4 linked regions of the Homo sapiens genome follow. The protein of the gene in region 4 interacts with the protein of the main gene of each other region in a pairwise test. Each region holds a gene or a part of one and is shown on either strand. Other genes may lie near its edges.

Evidence for each region. Proteins that work in one complex are often made in the same cells at the same time.
Region 1: the proteins of MAGEB18 (region 4) and LAMP2 interact in binary tests that used the Homo sapiens proteins (3 or more experiments, as listed by UniProt).
Region 2: the proteins of MAGEB18 (region 4) and SH3GLB1 interact in binary tests that used the Homo sapiens proteins (3 or more experiments, as listed by UniProt).
Region 3: the proteins of MAGEB18 (region 4) and COQ8A interact in binary tests that used the Homo sapiens proteins (3 or more experiments, as listed by UniProt).

Annotation. Positions count from the first base shown.
Region 1 is NC_000023.11:120,458,409-120,462,796, reverse strand, and holds part of LAMP2 (lysosome-associated membrane glycoprotein 2 isoform A precursor), read left to right. Parts: intron 1-4,388. UniProt on the Homo sapiens protein: Lysosomal membrane glycoprotein which plays an important role in lysosome biogenesis, lysosomal pH regulation and autophagy.
Region 2 is NC_000001.11:86,735,576-86,739,963, reverse strand, and holds part of SH3GLB1 (endophilin-B1), read right to left. Parts: intron 1-4,388. UniProt on the Homo sapiens protein: May be required for normal outer mitochondrial membrane dynamics. Required for coatomer-mediated retrograde transport in certain cells. May recruit other proteins to membranes with high curvature. May promote membrane fusion.
Region 3 is NC_000001.11:226,964,294-226,968,681, reverse strand, and holds part of COQ8A (atypical kinase COQ8A, mitochondrial), read right to left. Parts: intron 3,683-4,388; coding exon 3,272-3,682; intron 3,012-3,271; coding exon 2,945-3,011; intron 1-2,944. UniProt on the Homo sapiens protein: Atypical kinase involved in the biosynthesis of coenzyme Q, also named ubiquinone, an essential lipid-soluble electron transporter for aerobic cellular respiration.
Region 4 is NC_000023.11:26,135,996-26,141,822, reverse strand, and holds MAGEB18 (melanoma-associated antigen B18), read right to left. Parts: upstream 3,481-5,827; 5' UTR 3,356-3,480; intron 2,900-3,355; 5' UTR 2,838-2,899; coding exon 1,806-2,837; 3' UTR 1,770-1,805; intron 1,644-1,769; 3' UTR 1,087-1,643; downstream 1-1,086. UniProt on the Homo sapiens protein: May enhance ubiquitin ligase activity of RING-type zinc finger-containing E3 ubiquitin-protein ligases. Proposed to act through recruitment and/or stabilization of the Ubl-conjugating enzyme (E2) at the E3:substrate complex.

The DNA.
Region 1 (4,388 bases), about 94 Mb from region 4:
TTTGAGTTCTAGCTCTTCCACTCCAGGAATGGGGACTCTTAATCACTTCATTATATAATCAATCCATTGTATCTTGGATCATTGTTTGGTTTCTTTTTATTGGTTTTGTTTTATTGCTAGCATTATGTTCTTCCCCCACCCCTAATTTTGTGTGTTTATGTTTTCAGCTATACTTTGGGTCAAATAGACTTGCAAAAACCTAGCCACTTTTTGCAGTGTCATACACTTGGGGAAGTAAGGTCTGTGTTCTCTGTGAGAGGTTTTTTTTTTTTTTTTTGACAGGGTCTTGTTCCATTCCCCCAGCTGGAGTGCAGTGGAGTGATCTTGGCTCACTGCAACCTCTGCCTCATGGGCTCAAGCGATCCTCCCATGTCAGCCTCCCGAGTAGTTGAGACCACAGGCATGCACCATCACACCCAGCTATTCTTTTGTATTTTTAGTATAGATGGGGTCTTGCCATGTTGCCCAGGCTGGTCTTGAACTCTTGAGCTCAAGTGATCTGCCCCCCTTGGCCTCCCAAAGTGCTAGGATTACTGGTGTGAGCCACTGCCCGGTCAAGGTCTGCATTCTAAAAGAATTTACAAATGACCTTTTTGGAAAACAGGATTGAGAGGATATTTGACTTTGAGAACGGTTGATTTTGAGGCATACCTTTTTCTTTTATTTAGAGAATAAACTCTCAGCTCTAAAATTACACACTCTAGAATATATTCATCTATGGTTTTTTAATGTCATAAAGCCTTTTAAAAATTGGGTATTGTAAAATCAAACACAGCAATAAGGATGGAAATTGCTTGCTAGATACTTTTTAATAAAGTGTAAATATTTCAACTGTAAACTTACCTTTTGGGAAAAGCTCTGTTCCTAGCTTGACATCCATGTCAAAATTTATTGAAGTGAAACCCAACATGGGGTTTGAGGGAATATCCAGAAGACTGATATGTTCAAGATTTGGAAGAGCTAAAGGACTGGCCTCTCTGTAATTAGATTAAGCTATGTTTTGGGTCCCTATTGCAGTGTGTTTTCACCTTGATATAATTAATCAGTATTTATTGAAAATCTAATATGCATTCAGCACTACTTGGAATGATAGGAGATAGAGGAAAAGTAATACACATGGTGTCCCCTACCATGACACTCATGATAGATGACATTCATATAAAAGACACACTGCTAGGGGTTGTGGGATACATCAGATCATCTGATCAAGGGAGCATACTGGAGTTCAAACGAGTGACAGAAATGTTATCTAAAGGGAATCTTGAATCTATCCATATATATCATTCATTCACAGACTTGGTACTTTTTTTATTAGTAACAAATTACTTACTGTATACTATAATTTACCATGGCACACCAGTTTGTTATGAAGTGACAGTTGAAAACTGCTGTGTTGGAGCTTATGACAGTAGGAGGGACAGGATTTACTGCTATAAAATAACTGAATAATTCAGGATAATGTAAAATATACTGAAATGGGATGTGCATTATTACTGCTCCTTGAGGGCTTTTATAGTCAGGGAAAGCTTTGTGGAGAAAATGGCTACTGAAAAAACAGATAGCATATCAGCCCAGGTTCTTAATTGCAAGGAAGAGAAATACAATCTGATTGATTTTAAGCAGAAAAGAATTTATTAAAAAGAACTGGGATATAATGCATACCCTTTGGCCCCACAGTTTCATTCCTAGATATACAGCCAACATACACGCATACATGTGTTTACTAATATGTGCAAGAATGTTTGCAGCAGTGTTTGTAATAGAATCACACTGGAAACTAAATGCCCATTAAAGGTAGCATAGATAAGTAGTTTTTTTGTTTGTTTGTTTTTGTTTTTTTTTGAGACAGAGTTTCATTCTTGTTGCCCAGGCTGGTGGAGTGCATTGGCATGATCTTGGCTCACTGCAACCTCTGCCTCCCGGGTTCAAACGATTCTCCTGTATCAGCCTCCTGAGTAGCTGAGATTACAGGCATGTGCCACCATGCCCAGCTAATTTTTATATTTTCAGTAGAGGTGGGATTTGGCCATGGTGGCCAGGCTGGTCTCGAACTCCTGACCTCAAGTGATCCACCCTCCTTGGCCTCCCAAAGTGCTGGGATTACAGGCGTGAACCACCCCACCTGGCCTGTATTCACCTGATCATAGAAGGTTATACAGCAGTGAGCACAGACTGCAATTATGCATAACATGGGTGAATCTCACAAAACCTAAAATTGAGGAAAGAAAGCAGACACAAAAGAGAGCATAGTGAATGATTTTATTTATATCAAGTTGAAAAATGGATAAAATTAATCTATAGTGTCAGAAATCAGGATAATGGTTACCCTTGGGAAGGGAATAGTAACCCTTGGGAAGGGAAAGGGAAATAAGGAGGGCTTTGGAAGTGTAGTTGACCCTTGAACAACACAAGTTTGAACTGTGTGTGGATCTACTTATACATGAGTTTATTTCACCTCTACCACCCTGAAGACAGCAAGACCAACCCCTCCTCTTCCTCCTCCTCGTTATGATTTTTTTTTTTTGAGACGGAGTCTCTATCTGTTGCCCAGGCTGGAGTGCAGTGGCGCGATCTCAGCTCACTGCAACCTCTACCTCACAGGTTCAAGCGATTCTCCTGCCTCAGCCTCCCAAGTAGCTAGGATTATAGGTGACCACCACCAAGCCCAGCAAATTTTTAGTGGAGATGGGGTTTCACCATGTTGGCCAGGCTGGTCTCGAACTCCTGACCTCAAGTGATCCGTCTGCCTCAGCCTCCCAAAGTGCTGGGATTATAGGTGTGAGCCACCATGCCCAGCCCTCCTTATGATTTTCTTAACATTTTCTTTTCTCTAGCTTTATTTTCAAAACACAGTATGTAACACATATATAACATACAAAATATGTGTGAATCGACTGTTTATGTTGTTGGTAATGCTTCCAGTCAACAGTAGGATATTAGTAGTTAAGTTTTGGGGGAGTCAAAAATAATATGCAGATTTTCAACTGTGCAGTGGGTCAACACCTGTTAATGTTCTGTTTCTTGACACAGGTGGTTTTGGTTTGTGAAATTATTTGAGCTGTAGACTTAATGTTACGTGCACTTTTCCCTTACATCTGTTATACTGTGCCTGTTTCTGTACATATGTTACATATCAAATGTTTATTAAAGGGGTATATTGGGTAACTCAGAATTTCTGGTGCTCCTGGCTATATATACCAAATCCCAGTTCAGGATTCAACAACCCAGATCATGCTGCTGAACTGCACTACCACTGCCAAGTGTGAAATTGAAGCTTGCTCTGCTGGCCTTGTTGCCTGGGAGCTTGATCCTGCTTCTGTTACTCCACACCTGTCTCCCTCCCTGTTCCATTCCTGGCTCCATTTGCAGCCCTCCTTTCAAAGTGTGGGGTGGATACCTTTGTTAGGCAGAGCCTAGCACAAGTGGTCCTCCTTACTGCAAGGGAGTCTGGGAAAGCAAGTATCCAGTGTTTTCAGCTTTTATAGTGGGTGGTGATTTCTGCCAGAAATTGTAACAAGGGGACAAGGGGTGTTTCAGATTTGGGGCAGCCAAAAAGCGAGCAAAATCCATCTTTGAGGTGAGCATTTAGGCCAATAGAAGAAAGTAGATTTCAAGTGTTAGGAACAATAGAAGCCCAGGGTAGAGGTTGAATAGAGTATGGCATTTGAGCCCAGTGGAAACAAGTTTAACTGGATTAAAGGGTGTGCTCTGGGAAAATAGTTTGAGAAAAGTTGAAGGAATAGGATGGGACAAGATTAAAGATTACTTTGAAAGTCAGGCAGAGGAATTTAAATTTCATATGGGAATGTTGGAGCCAGTAAAAGTTTTTGAACAAGAAAGTGTCCTAAAAGGAAATGGTACTTAAGGATTATTAATCTGGCAGCACTTCTAGGGGTATCTAGGCATTTTCTGTCATAATTTAGGTGTGGGGTGATAGATTGGGAGTAGAAATAAAAGACAAAGATTGTATTTAAGAGAAGATTTGAAGGAAAAAAATCAATAGGACTTCTTGAAGAGAAAGAAGTAGAGGCTATTTCTGAAACTGAGCTTGAGTGACTGATCCCACTCTTCATTTAGAGCTAGCAAAGCTGAGGAGGGACCCAGTTTGGAGGAAGCAGAAGAATGAATTTTAGTTTGGGAATTGCTGAGTTTGAGGTGAGAGATATTGAGTAAAAGTGGTCCCTGTGCAGTTAGAGTTGGGGACCAAGAAGTGGAAAGAATTGCACTCAGGCAGAAAGGCTGTGAAGGGAATGGAACAGAGTGTGCCAGAACCCTCAGGGTGTTTCTCAGCTCTTGTTTACGGGCCACCAGGTATACTATCTTGAATTTAATTTTAAGTGATACGTTTGAACCACAACCTCTACCTTTTGTTTCATAAAACGTCAGTT
Region 2 (4,388 bases), on a different chromosome or scaffold from region 4:
CATATTGACCAGGCTAATCTCAAACTCCTGAGCTCAAGTGATCTGCCCACCTTGATCTCCCAAAGTGCTGGGATTACAGGCATGAGCCACTGCGCCTGGCCAGGAAACTCTTTAATGAGCTGTCTATGCTCCTGATGCTAATTCCTCCATATGTGCACAAAATCTCATCCTTTTTTGCCTCTCTAGGGTATCACTCTAGCAATTCTTCCCTTTCCCTCCCACATTATCATATTTTCTCCACCTAGTGTATCATTCCCATCAGCTTACAAACATGCCCTTATTTCTCCTATCTTAAAAAACAAGCAAAAAATTGCTAGACCCCACTTTCTCCTCCGACTACTGCCTCATTCCTCTGTTCCCCTTTACACCAAAACCCCTTGAAAGATTTACGTATTCTTACGGTCACAATTCCTCTCCTCCGAGTCTCTTATATTACAAACATTACTTTGCGCCTACTGTTTCACCAAAACTACTCGTCAAGGTTAGCAATGACTTTAATGTTCCTAAATCCAATGGTCAATTCGTAGTCCTCTCACTTGACCTAGGCAGTGACCATTCTCTCCCACTTTCACACATGTTCACTTGACTTCCAGGCCATACTCTTAGTTTCCATTTTACCTCACTGCCTCACTCGTTATCATCTTCCTTGCCTCGTTCCTCAACTCTCTATGCTAGAGTACTTCAGGGATCAGTCCTTGATCCTCTCCTTTTCTCTATACTTACTCCTTTGAGGGTTTATCTAGTCTCACAGATTTAAATATCTTTGATATGCTGACAACTCTCTAATTATCTAATTCACCCTGCCCCCAATCCAAGTCCAGACCTGCATATCCTAAAATTGGATACCTCCACTTAAATGTTTAAGAGACATCTCAAACTTAACATATTTAAAACTGGGCTTCTAATATAACTGACATACTTCCCAGACCTCCATCCCTGAAATCTTTGCCTCCTCTGGCATTCCCCATTTTAACTATCTACAACTCCCCATTCTTTCAGTTACTTAGGTCAAAAACTTGCAGATGGACGTGGTGGCTCACGCCTATAATCCCAGCACTTTGAGAGGCTGAGGCGGGCAGATAGCCTGAGGCCAGGAGTTCAAGACCAGCCTGGCTAACATGGTGAAACCCCTTTTCTACTAAAAATGCAAAAAATTAGCTGGGCATGGTGGCGCACACCTGTAATCCTAGCTACTTGGGAGGCTGAGGCAGGAGAATCTCTTGAACCCGGGAGGCAGAGGTTGCAGTGAGCCGAAGTTGCGCCATTGTACTCCACCTTGGACTGGAAGAGTGAAACTCTGTCTCTAAAACAAAACAAAACAAAACCTTGCAATAATTCTTGACCTCTTTGTGTCCAATATACATACAGTCTGTCAAGCAAATCCTTCTGGCTTTAAGTCTAAAATACACCCACAGTCACGCCTGTAATCCCAGCACTTTGGGAGGCCGAGGCGGGCAGATCACAAGGTCAGGAGATCGAGACCATCCTGGCTAACACGGTGAAACCCTGTCTCTACTAAAAATACAAAAAATTAGCTGGGTGTGGTGGTGGGTGCCTGTAGTCCCCGCTACTCGGGTGGCTGAGGCAGGAGAATGGCATAAACCCAGATGGAGGAGCTTGCAGTGAGCCGAGATTGCGCCACTGCACTCCAGCCTGGGCAACAGAGCAAGACTCTGTCTCAAAAAAACAAAACAAAACAAAACAAAACAAACAAACAAAAAACAAACAACACCCACAGGCCCACAGGACCTGACCACTTCCATCCTACCTACCACAATTACCCTGATCCAAGCCACTGCCATCTTCTGACTGAATTACTGACTACATTATTGCAATAAGTTTGAAACAGATCAGTCAGCTTCCACCCAACACCTATCCTCAACGTGGCAGCCAGAATGATTCTGTTAAAGCCTAAAATTATGTCACTCTTCAGCTCAAAATTTCCAAAGGCGCCTCATCTCTGAGTAAAGACCAAAGTCGAAGCCCTATATGTTTTGGCTCCCCGTTTCCTCTACTCGTCTCTAGCCAAGCCCTCCTTGCTGTTCCTTGACCATACCAGCTATGTCATGCCCTCAGGGTTTTTGTACTTGCTGCACCCTCTACCTGGAGCATCTTCTCTCAGATGCCTGCATGTGTGCTTTCTCACGTCTTTCTCTACTCCCATCAAAGTAGTTTCCTGCTATATTTTCCGGTACACCATTTTCACCTTCTAATATACTATATAATTTATATACATATTGCTTTTCTGCTCCCTTCTGCCCCCATATAGAATGTAGATTCCAGGAAGGCAGGAATTTTGATTATTTTATTTATATACTATATCCCCCACATCTGGAACAGTACATTTTAAAAATGAAAAGCAAATGTTTCTCTGATGGATAAAGGGTGAAATAGTTTTAAATATAGCTTTTCCTCTCTAAAATTAAGACCACCTGTCCTAGTATCCTTTCCTCAGTGAACTCGGTTCTTCAGTAGGGATTAAATACATACATTTCTGAAGATAAGAAAAAGCTCTATTTATATGAATATGTATATACACATGGCTTTTTTAGTTCTCTAACCATATTTTACTTCCAAATCTACTAGTATGATTTTAGCCTTTGATTAGCCACTGAAGTGTACCTATGTCAATTTTGCAGAGTTAAAGATTTAAAAAATGAACTGAAAGGCCATTTTTACCTTCTAAGAACTTTTATTGATACGTTAAAAAATCATAGCAATTACTCATTCTATAAAAATGTCAATTAAGCCACTGGAGCTTGAAATGCAAAAGCCTTCCAATTATTAAAAAAATTGCTAATCTTGTGACTAGTACTTCTGCTTTCTCATCTTTAAAATATGGATAATAATAGTACCTACCTCATTTGGTGGTGAGGATTATAAAGTTAATAATACACATGAGGTGTCTGGAAGAGCACCTATGCACAACTTAAGCTCAACCAAAGTGATGGCTGTTATTCAGTTACTTCTACTACCTGTTGGTACTGTTATTGCAACTATTAACAATACAATCTGGTTCTCTTCTTCATAAATAGTTTTTGAATGTGTTAGTGTGAAGCTGGATGATTTGTCAAGTTCTATATTTGAATATTTCTATGTATTATCTTAAAAAGCATAACCTGCAACAAATTAAAGAGATAAAACTTCCTCCAATGTCATTGGTCATTAGCAATAATATAATTGAGGGTGGAGAGACAAGCTAGACTTTCTTTTCTAGAATAGTAGCACTGGTTTTACTTTGTATTGCTGGAGCTTATCTCAAAGAGCAGTAATAACGCAACAACTGGATTTTGTTTAAATGGCCAAGTCCTAAGCATAGTGTGGCTTTAAGTAGAATGCGAGTATAAGCAACCCCTATGCCGCACTTCCAGAGTTTCAGGATAAAGTGGAAAAAAGTACTAAGGCTTCTTGGGCTTAAAATAGTTATAATGATGTGAAGATAAAGTGCTGTTCTGCCTTGAGATATTAACACCACTAATAAAACCTCAAATATATAGTTATGTAAATGCTCCTGTATATTCTATTAAAATAACTAATGATTAGGCTACCATTCATTTTTGAGGTTCAAAATTGGTTTCATGGACGTGCTCAATTTTATTCTAGGCCAAGTTTTGAAGTGTTAATGTGCAGAAACAAACACCAAAGTGACTTTATTTACCTTATTCCTTGAAACGATTTTTTGATATTCATCCTTCAAATGCTACATATCGCTCCCCTGCTTTAATGGTTCCTCAATATATAAATTCCAAACTCCTTACAACAACTTACTTTAAAAGCCATTCATGGTATGACCCTGCTTAACTCCTCTAGATTCATCTACCATTCCATTCTTGAACACTATGCTCCAGCCTGAATGGACTACTATCAGTTCCCCGAACTTTCCCTACTCTCTTTCTTCTGGCTTTTTTATAAACATATTCTTCCTTGCTTAGAATATTCATCCCTGTCCCTTTCTTCATCTAGATTATTCCTACCAAGATAACTTCACCTGGGAAACTCTGCTAGATGTACCTCAGTCACAGTTAGATGCCTTCACAATACCAGGCACCTTCTGCTTTTCTGCCTACCACATGGCCTGTCTACCAACGGCTTGCTTTGTATTTCTACCTAGGCTAAGTGTTGTGAGAGCAGAGACCATGTTTGCCCTAAACATTATTTTATTTTCAGTGTCACCTTATAATGTGAGCTCCATAAAGGCAAGCATCTTTGCCTGTTTTGTTTGCTGATATTACCCCACAATATGTAACAGTGCTTGGCACATGGCAGATAGTCAATAAATACGTGATGAATGAGTGATTGAGCTTTGTGTTTTACATACTGTCATTTTGCTTTGAAGTATATTAACATACTCAAAATAATCACATCGGTAGATATGAGGTCTTACGAAA
Region 3 (4,388 bases), on a different chromosome or scaffold from region 4:
GCAGCCCTACCTCCCTGAGACCTAGAGCAATCCCTTTCCTTCATAACCCCGTGTAAAAACTTCCTAAAGTCTGTCAGTCTGCACCTGAAAAACACCTTTCCTCCATGAAGGGAAGAAAGGCTAGAGGTATTTTCTAGGAGAACAAAGCGCAACAGTGCAACTACAAACTGTTTGGATGATGACCCACCAGTAAGCTATATATTTCACATTGTAGTGAAGAACATACTTAAATAGTATGTATGTCTCTGAAACTAAAATATCTTGCCATGTGTATAGTTCATTGTAAGGATGTACGATATTAATTCTAATCTTTTCTATTGAATTCCATTCTGTTTAACTTGTTTTTTGAGACAGAGTCTCACTCTGTCGCCCCCACTGGAGTGCAGTGGCGCAATCTCAGCTCACTGCAACCTCTCCCTCCTGGGCTCAAGCAATTCTTGTGCCTCAGCCTCCCGAGTAGCTGGGATTACAGTCACATGCCACCACACCTAGCTAATTTTTGTATTTTTTTAGTAGGAATTGGGGTTTCACCATGTTGGCCAGGCTGGTCTCAAACTCCTGACCTCAGGTGATTCTCCCACCTCGGCCTCCCAAAGTGCTGAGATTACAGTTAACTTGTTTTTTATATGCTGATCCTGATGCATTAAATTAATTTCACAGTTACTAAAGGGTCATAACCTACAGTTTGAAAGGTTCAACTGGGTGAGCCAGAAGGCCCAGAATTCCCCACTAGGGCCAGAACGGCACGTTCTTTCCTGACCTGGCTTCTCTTTGCTCCCATCCTGCCATCTCCAAGCCTGAAACATCATCTGTCAATTGCTTGGGCAACAACATGAGCATCTCTGAATCATAGCTGTGGGCAATCCTCCAGCACACAGACACCCACAGATGGCTCCGTACATCAGGCAGGTGTCAGCAAAGGCTCCAGAGGCTTCTGATGCTACAAAGCACCCAAGACTAGGGCTTCAACTCCACTAACCCAGGCTCCCTCTGGCTACCCATAATCCCCCACCCTCTGAGGAGAGCTCTCTACCTTTTTCTTCCTACACATCTTCCTATATATAACCCCTTCCACATCAGTCTCTGTCTTCCTTAACCCGTCACCCAAAAGGGTCTGACTACTGCCTCCTTCGCCAGGACTTCGTGGTGCTCCACCAGATTCTAATTCACCATCAAGACTTTCATTCTGACCACTTTTCCCTAACAGCCTGCATTAGCTCTACCGCTTCTCCCCACCCCACAAAGACTCCGAAGTGAGGACTGCACCAGTCCTGAAACACGTCAAACTCAGCCTTCCAGGGACAGGCTCACCAAGAGTCTAGAGTGAAAGGAAGAGGGAGGGGACAGAGAAAAGGTACCGATGTGAAAACAGGGTAGCTCCTGCCCTCAATATCATGGGGAAAGAAGACAGCCTCCATTCAATATTTTAATAAGAAATAATACATGTTACCCAATGACAAGCCAATGTGCAAAGCAAGTAACATGCCAAGTCTTCCAGGGGATAAGGACCACTAGAGGCCACCAAGGCAGTGATTCTCAAACTCATTCTGACAGCAGAACTCAGGGAGGTGTGATATTCTATGAGGGACTGCTTGAAATGTTACCCCAGGAAAAGGAAATAAGCAAATACTCTTGGCTGTCACATAGATGACACTTCATACTAAATTCCTGAATGGCTAAGTACAGTGGATGCCAAATATTAAGGTAAAAATTATGAAAGAAAACCTTACTGCTGAGAAAATTCTATCCAGTTAACCAAGTCTGCTCAGCACCTTGGAGAGGGGGGCCAGCCATCATTCAATGTCAGAACCCACACACATTACGCAGCTCCCAGAATACCAGGCTCTCGGGGAGCACAGTACGTGAGCCTCTGCCCAGAACCAGTCTTGAACAAGTAGGATGGGGTTTCCAAAAGAGAATAGGCAGGAGCGGAGGAACAGCATGTATGATGGATGGTGTATGGGAGGAAAAACATAAACCAGCAAAGAGACAGGCAGACCCATGAGAGTGCATCTCCATGCCCCACCCAGCACCAGCACCATCATGGACCACTCAGACCTCTGCTGCCTACAGCCCTGGAACTAACCACTCACCCAAGGTCAGGGTCCAAATCAAGCCACCAAAACTGTGGCTTCCATTAATTATATCACCTGGAGAACCTACTGAGGACAGCTGAGTGTTAAAGAAATGCAATCCCAGTAACTAACTTAGAGTGTACCACAGCAAAGGAGATGGCACTTTAACAGGAACATCTGGGCCAGCGCATTAGCAGCAGCATGACAAACATGATGCCATCAAAGCAGACACAACTGCTATAAACCTTCACTATAAAATCACCCTTCAACTTCTATAAAAAGAGCGCATGTGTACTGGGCACAATGACAACTCAACCCCCCAAAGTACAGACAAACGGCTTTAAACAGCAGCAGCTGGAGGCCATGGCATCTTGTCACTCCACTCATGAGCCGCAGGCCTGTGGGGACCCAGCAAATGGGCTCCCTAAATGTCTGGTCCCAGGGGGAAAGAAAGCCCTGCTGAGTTGCTGAACAGCCCCAGGGAAGAGCTTTTCCTCACTGCCCAGCCTCCTTCCTGAGAGGCCTCCAAAGCAGCCGACTGGTAGTGAACCTGAGGCAGGGGTGAAACAGAGATGCTGCAGACACCGCCTCCAGGCGAGGCCTGCCGGGCAATCCAAACTCAGCTCCTGGCACAGCATCGGCCCTGTACCAACCCGCAGGGGAGAGCCAGGCAGAGCTGGAATCCAGTAACTGAATCATCCTCCCATGAAAAACTCCAGCTCCCCAAAAGCTCATGCAGGGGCGGCCACCGCCACCTGCTCCCCCAACGCCCTCCCCGGGATATTGCTGGGTCCCCACCTCCATGCAGGCCGCAGCGTGGTGCCCAGGCAGGGCAGGTGAGGCAGTCCAGGGGCACACAGCCACCTTACCTCCGAAGTTGGCCAGCCGGCCAATCCTCGTCACAGGCACCTTCCGCTCCCGGGCATGCTCGCTGAGCTGGAGGGAGACGAGAAAGAGACCTGTGGAATCAGCCAAGGGGACAGGACCAACCTTCAGAGGCTCCTGTTGCCCCCACATCTCCTCTCCACCCCACAGTCAGCAGCTCCGCCTGACAGCACACTCCACCAAGAGAAGGCCACCACGCTCCTAAAAACCCCAGACCACAGCACCCAGGAAAAGTCCCTAGAGCAGAGCCCAAGGCCATCACTGCTGTGGGTGGCAGCTACCTCGGCCCTCCAGGGGCCTCCCATACGCACCGTCTGTTTGTGCTGCTTGTTCTCGGGGCGAGCCTTAGCCTGCCGGGCCTTCTCAATGTCCTCGGCTGTGAGGCCCCCAACAGGGGATTGGTCCTGGTGGAAGAACCTTCGCTGAAAGCCCATGGCAGAGAATGAGTCTCTGGGGTTTGCAAAGAGCCTCCCGTTGGCCCTGCCCAGAGGGGAGGAGGCCTGGCCGGGGAACCCGGCTTCTCTAAAGGGTCCACTGGCCACGTAGGCAGGAGCTGGGCCCTCGCTGTGGGCATGACCCAGGGATGGGGGCGCTGACTGGTCGGGAGCGGAGGCTGAAGAGAAGTCTGTGGAGGCTCCGGCTGCATGCGGGACTGAGAAGTGGAACTCCCCTTCTGGGCCGCCGAAGTTCTCAGCAAAATATTCTTCATGTTTATCCTGACCCTGCAGGGAGCAAAGGCCAGCATTAGGAGAGCAAGAGCGAGCCAGGAGCTCCTCCCTGCCTGTCCCCTGCTGCCCAGGACAGCACACCACCAGCATCCCGCCCCCTCCCACCTCCAGAGGTGGCACAGTGCTGCACCTGAGGCCCGGCACCCTTCCCAGCCTGGGAGCCGGGACCTGGGCTCCAGCCCTGCTTCTGTTGGGGCTCTGCTGTGTGGTCCTAGGTGGGACACTGAGCACCTACTGTGTGCCCAGCCGGGGCCAGGCCAAGTGCACACTACGCCCGCAGCGGGTTCCTCACCTATAAAACAGGGCCAAGAAGGCCTCCAGGGCTTTGGAGATGGTAAACCAGGGCGCAAAAGACAGGGAAAGCTCTGAGAGGTGAACACACAGCCTAAGGCCAGCAAGGGGTGAGGGAAGCACACCGACGGGCCCACCTAAGCCCACAGCTTACTGCAGACATGGATGCCACCCACCAGCCGGGGTATGCATGTAAGAGATCCTCACTGGAGAGGTGGTTACAACCAGGACCAGGCCTGGCCGTCCCTAAGAGCTCAGGGTACAGGGAAATGGAGGGGCAGGGGAGAGGATACGCCATGTTTTCTTTGTGATGGTCACCAAGGCCTGAGCTTCGGGCCCAGGTCCTTTCTGCTTCTGAACCAGGAGTGACCTTGAGTGAGCTCCTGACCCTTCTCTGCTACTTCCTCAT
Region 4 (5,827 bases):
CTATAGTGAGCCATGATTGCACCACTGTGTTCCAGCCTGGGGAAAAGAACCAGACCCTGTCTCAAAAATATGTCCTTTTAAATACTAGGATTTGGCTCTCTCAGTTCAGAGCAAAGGAGCCAACACAGTAGCTTTTCAGCATCCCACATCAAGGCAGTTTCACCATTATTTCTCAAAAATTTCCTGGAGAGGCTGTGCATAAAATAAGTAGATTGTGCTATGTGTTCAACTGAATGTGAACAAGAGCACAGGACACTATCCACTTCTCACTTCTGCCCCAAGAGATTTTTTTTTTTTTTTTTTTTTTTTTTTTAAGACAGAGTCTCGCTCTGTCACCCAGGCTGGAGCACAGTGGCAAGATCTCGGCTCACTGCAAGCTTCGCCTCCTAGGTTCAAGCAATTCTCTGCCTCAGCCTCCAAAGTAGCTGGGACTACAGGCGCCCTCCACCATGCCCAGCTAATTTTTTTGTATTTTTAGTAGAGATGGGGTTTCACCATGTTAGCCAGGATGGTCTCAATCTCCTGACCTCGTGATCTGCCCGCCTCGGCCTCCCAAAGTGCTGGGATTACAGGCGTGAGCCACTGCGCCCGGCCGAGGTTTTCTTCTGGTTTATTGATGTCACCAAGGTAACTCTTAAGTGGAGCTTTCCACTCCAGGGTTTTGTCCTTCAACAATGAGACACACCATCTGAGTGCCTGGCCTCTGCTCTCCAGTCCCAAAGCTTCATCTAGCCCACCACCCAGCTTAAATTAAAAGTATATCCCACTGAGAGACTCAAAGTTTCCAAAAGTCTAAAAGGGCCTTTCTTCAGAGAATTTGCACCTTACCATTTTCAGCCAGATACACTTCAGCACTTTTCCCAAACCCCTCTCTAACTCCTTACCTCCTTACTCCCTCTTGTTACTTGTCCTTTAGGTCTTAGAAGTATTTCACCATCTTCCATACATTATTACTGTTCATTAATTGTAAAAGTCTAAGCAGAGGTGGGTGTTTTGTATCCTGGTTTTCCCATTTCTAACAAAATTACTTTCAAAAATCAGATGTTGGATTAATATTGGAGGAATGAATGAGCCGGTAAGCATAGATGCTGGTTCATAAACATTTTATTTCTTCCTACCTTCTTCAGTAAGCTAAGCCAATCCAGGTATGACTTTTATTTTTATATAACAGACTAAAATGGAAAAAGAAAACCAAGAACTGAAAAGTTTACTTTTTCTCACCTATGTTTTGATCTCCAAAATTTTACTGCTAAATCATCTCACATTTTTTAAGGAAATACCTATTCCAATACTGTGTTTCCTTGTTCTGGCTCATTAAATATGAAAGAAGGTTTCCCAATTTGTTTTACAGAACAATAAAACTCCTACTCTTAAATAGCAATACGTGTGTAACCAAAGTCATTAATAAATATAGATTCTGAAGTTATCTAAAACTTCTATTATAAGCAACAACATTTGAAATATAACACCAAAAAAAAAAGAAAGAAAAAGATACAACTCCGAGTTACTATAGACTATTAACACAAAATGATATATGCTGTGTTCCCTCCAGACGCACTCTGGCCATTCACTACTTAGAATGTTGACTGCTCTTCTCTTCCACAAAGAAAACAATCTTCAGACTTGAACATTTGAAATGTAACCTAGGGGAAACAAAAAGATGGAAAAGTAAAACTCGAGTTATCAATATACAATAGGAATGCAAAGATGATATACACTTATTTCTTCCAGCCCCACCATGGCCCTCCACTATTAGAATGTTGACAGACCTTTTCGACCAAAAAGTGAAGAACAAGCCTCAGATTTCACTTAGCATGGGAGAAGCTGCTAGACGTGGTTCTGGAACGTGCATTTGCCATGGCAGCAGTATGAGCCCTGGCTGCAGCTCTGGCTTGGGTTCTCTGTTCCTCATCCCTCAAAGCCTCTTCATAGCAGGATGGGAAGGCACTAGGGACGGTATCATGTATCTTGGCTACAAACTCCAGGACTTTCATCTTGCTAGTTTCAGCGTGAGCTCTTGGACCCCACAGGAATTCATAGCGTGGAGGATCACTGTTGGGCACTTGCTGGTACTCCAGGTACTTTAGCTGCACCAAATCTTTGGTCATGACCTTCCTGGGATCCCCATAGAGGAAGTGCTTCCTATCGGCATATACACCCATCATATTCATAATTTCCCAGACTGCCTCTTCTGGGGCACGGTTGCCATTCAGAAAGATCACACCCAGTGCAATCATCAGGAGGCCAGTCTTGGGAATTTTTTCTTCATCACTGGTTGTTTCATCATAGGTGAGGTCTAATTTGCTGAAAAAGGCATAGTAGTGCCTGATGGGATCCACTTCCTTCAAATCAACACCAAGTGCCAGCTCCATGTGCTCAGAGGCTCTCTTGAGGATCTCATTGAAGTGACACTTATCCTTCCTGATAACAAACTTTATCATATCTCCCTTTGTAATTGGCTCTTTCGTTTCATACTTCTGAAGCAAGAAATGCACCAGCGACACTACTTTCTTGTTTAAAGGATCTTCTTTCCAGCCCTCAGCTTCCCTTGAGGAACCTAGACTTTTCTCATCTTGGCTGCTGGCACCTTCATTTGAACTGCATGAAACAGGTGCAATAGCATTGGTGGTGGATGGGGCTCCCTGAAGCGCTTCAGGGATGCTAGGTGTCTCAGCAGCAGGCAAATTCTGGGGTCTGTCACCAAAGAGAAGATAGGCAGGGGAGGGTGACTCTCCTTCTGCCACAGTGGCCTGCGTAGCTCCCAGATCCTGATTCTCACAACGAGCCTGGTGGCGTTTCTCACGGGCACGGAGCTTACTCTTCTGACCTCGAGGCATAATTACTCTTGTCAGGGACTACAGACAATAGTGCAGGCAGTTGAATTGATGAAGAGGGCACCCTAGAAGACGGAGGATGAGATAGTGTTCACAGCCTTGGTAGGGAGATTCTACCTTGGTCTAAGAATGGCCACCTCTCCTGGTTCTCTTGAGGGTATTGCTTTAGGAACCCATAAGGCAGGAGCGGGGTGGGACTGTTCTGTGGGGGGTTGTCACATCAGTTCTAACTCAGGATATTAATTTTACTCCTGACTACATCAGTTCTAACTTAGGATATTAATTTTACTTTAGTCTTTTGAGTCCTCCGTCTGTTGACTTGAGGCTGCCTCGCTTTAGACCATGGCTTCCCATCCCACAGATTCCCAACAGGAAGTAAGGGTGTTAGGCCTAACAGCTGCGCTTTGGGACACAGAGAGTTGAAAGTGGGAGCAGGACAGAGCAGAGAAGGATGGGTCTCTGTGAGGCAGCCTCTGTTCTGGGAAGAGTGTGTCTTGAAGGTCATAACAAATGATACTCACTTTGACACCTGCCGGATCCTGAGATTTATTTCTCTGGCCGCATGTTTCAGACCAAGGTTTCGCCCGTAACAGCTTGATGATGTGGAAGATAGGTCAAGAGAAACATGTCCGGCCACGCCCACTTTGCTCTCCCAGCTTAACGGCAAATGGTTCTGCGTTCGGGGGAGGGGCAGTTCTTAAAGAAATACATATATTTCTTTCATTGACTTTGCAGGCACTGGGACTTCTCTCTTTGCTAAGCTGAATCAGTCAGCCTCAGAAAAAGGATCATTTCCCTGAGTCCAGAGTAGGAAGTAAGGTGGAACCTGAGCCCAGCAGCCACGCCTGGGGACTCCCAAGATTGACAGTAGGGGCGGGGCTCTGTGGGGGTCCCTCTTCTTGGGTAGGTAATGCCCTCAGTCCTCACTCAGTGTCTTATCTTGACTTTTTGTAGGTGCTGGGCCACTTCTCTGCTGACTTGAGGCCATCAAATAAGGCACTAAATCTGTAAATAAAGATAATTGACATCTGTACAATATTATGTTCACCATATATAAACATATTGTATTGCTGTACTTAGGCATCCACCTAAGTCTATCAACACATTTTTATATTTGCTTTGATAGAGTGTGTATGTTTTTGTGAATGTTCTTTTTAGGTATATTTTGAATGTTGCTGCTCTTTTGAATGGTATATTTTTCATTCCATTTTTTTTTATTTTTAAAGCCCTCTCAAATTTATTGAAATAGATTTTCAGGATGGTACATTAGGAGAAAAATGAGGATGACAGAAACATCAAAGGATCTTTCATTCAGGCACTAAAAGTAATCCAGAAAAGAACTTCTCAGAGAAAATCTTAAGTAGCTAGGATCTTTCCTTATTTGGAACCATTACTTTCAATTTAATGCTTTGTATATTATGTTTGTTTTGTTTCTACTACACTGGCTGAGTCAGCTTTGAATTTCTGAAAAGCTTTACTTATGCCCCTCGCGTAAGATCCTAATCCAGTTCACAGTGAATTTCATGACTTAAAGTCTTGAGGTAGCACAAATGTTTTTACAAGATTCCTTGAGGCTTCTTTTTCTTTAACCTTTATTTTAAGTACAGGAGTATATGTGTAGGTTTGTTATATAGGTAAACTCGTGTCATGGGGGTTTGTTGTACAGATTATTTTATCAGCCTTGTATTAAGTCTAGCACCTATTAGTTATTTTTCCTGACCCTCTCCTTCCTCCCACCCTCCACCTTCTAAAAGGCCCCAGTATCCATTGTTCCGCTATATGTGTCCATGTGTTCCCATCATTTAGCTCCCACTTATAAGTGAGAACATGTGGTATTTGGTTTTCTGTTTTTATTTTAGTTTGCTAAGAATAATGGCCTCCAGTTCCATCCATGTTCTTGAAAAGGGCATGATCTTCTTTTATGGCTGCATAGTATTCCATGATGTATATGTGTCACGTTTTTGTTAGCCAGTCTACCATTGATGGACATTTTGGTTGAGTCTATGCCTTTGCTCTCTTGAATAGTAATACAATGAACACATGTGTGAATGTACCTTTATGATAGAATAATTTATATTCCTTTGGGTATCTACCCAGTCATAGGATTGCTGGGTGGAATGGTAGTTTTGTTTTCAGCTCTTTGAGGAATCACCACACTGCTTTCCACACTGGTTAAACTAATTCATACTCCCACCAACAGTGTGTAAGCATTCCTTTTTCTCCACAACCTCTCCAGCATCTGTTATTTTCTTGACTTTTTGGTAATAGTCATTCTATTTTTTACATTGTTACATTTTCTAATTAGTTATTTGTTGTGAGATGGTATTTCACTGTGGTTTTGATTTGCGTTTCTCATCAATGATCAATGATGTTGAGCTTTTTTTCATATGCTTGTGGCCATATGTATATCTTCTTTTGAAAAGTGTTTGTTCATGTCCTTTGCCCACATAATGGGATTGTTATTACATTTTCTCTTTTTTTCTTCAACTTTTAAGTTCTGGGGTACGTGTGCAGGTTTGTCACATATGTAAACATGTGCCATGGTGGTTTGTGTCACATAGGTAAACACGTGTCACATAGGTAAACATATGCCATGGTGGTTTGCTTCCCAGATCATCCCATCACATAGGTATTAAGCCCAGCATCCATTAGCCAGCATTCATCTTCTTGATGCCCTGCCTCCCCCAACCCCCACCCCATTGTTACATTTTCTAATTAGTTGTTTGTTTCATGTGGCTAGATTCCTGATTTCACTATAGTGATTTTCTACACAAGTTTACTGAATTTCCTTATACATTTGAATATTTTGTGAGCTGATTTCTTTAGAATTTTTAATTAGAGAATCATATTCTCTTTCTTTTCATTTTTCATAAATTTTATCTTAGTATTCTTCTGTGTGCCTGTATACTGGCTCCGCAATCCAGTCCGAGTTTGACCAGCAGAATTGGCACCACACCTCTGTATCTGGTTCTGAACTATTGAGAATGCTGCCA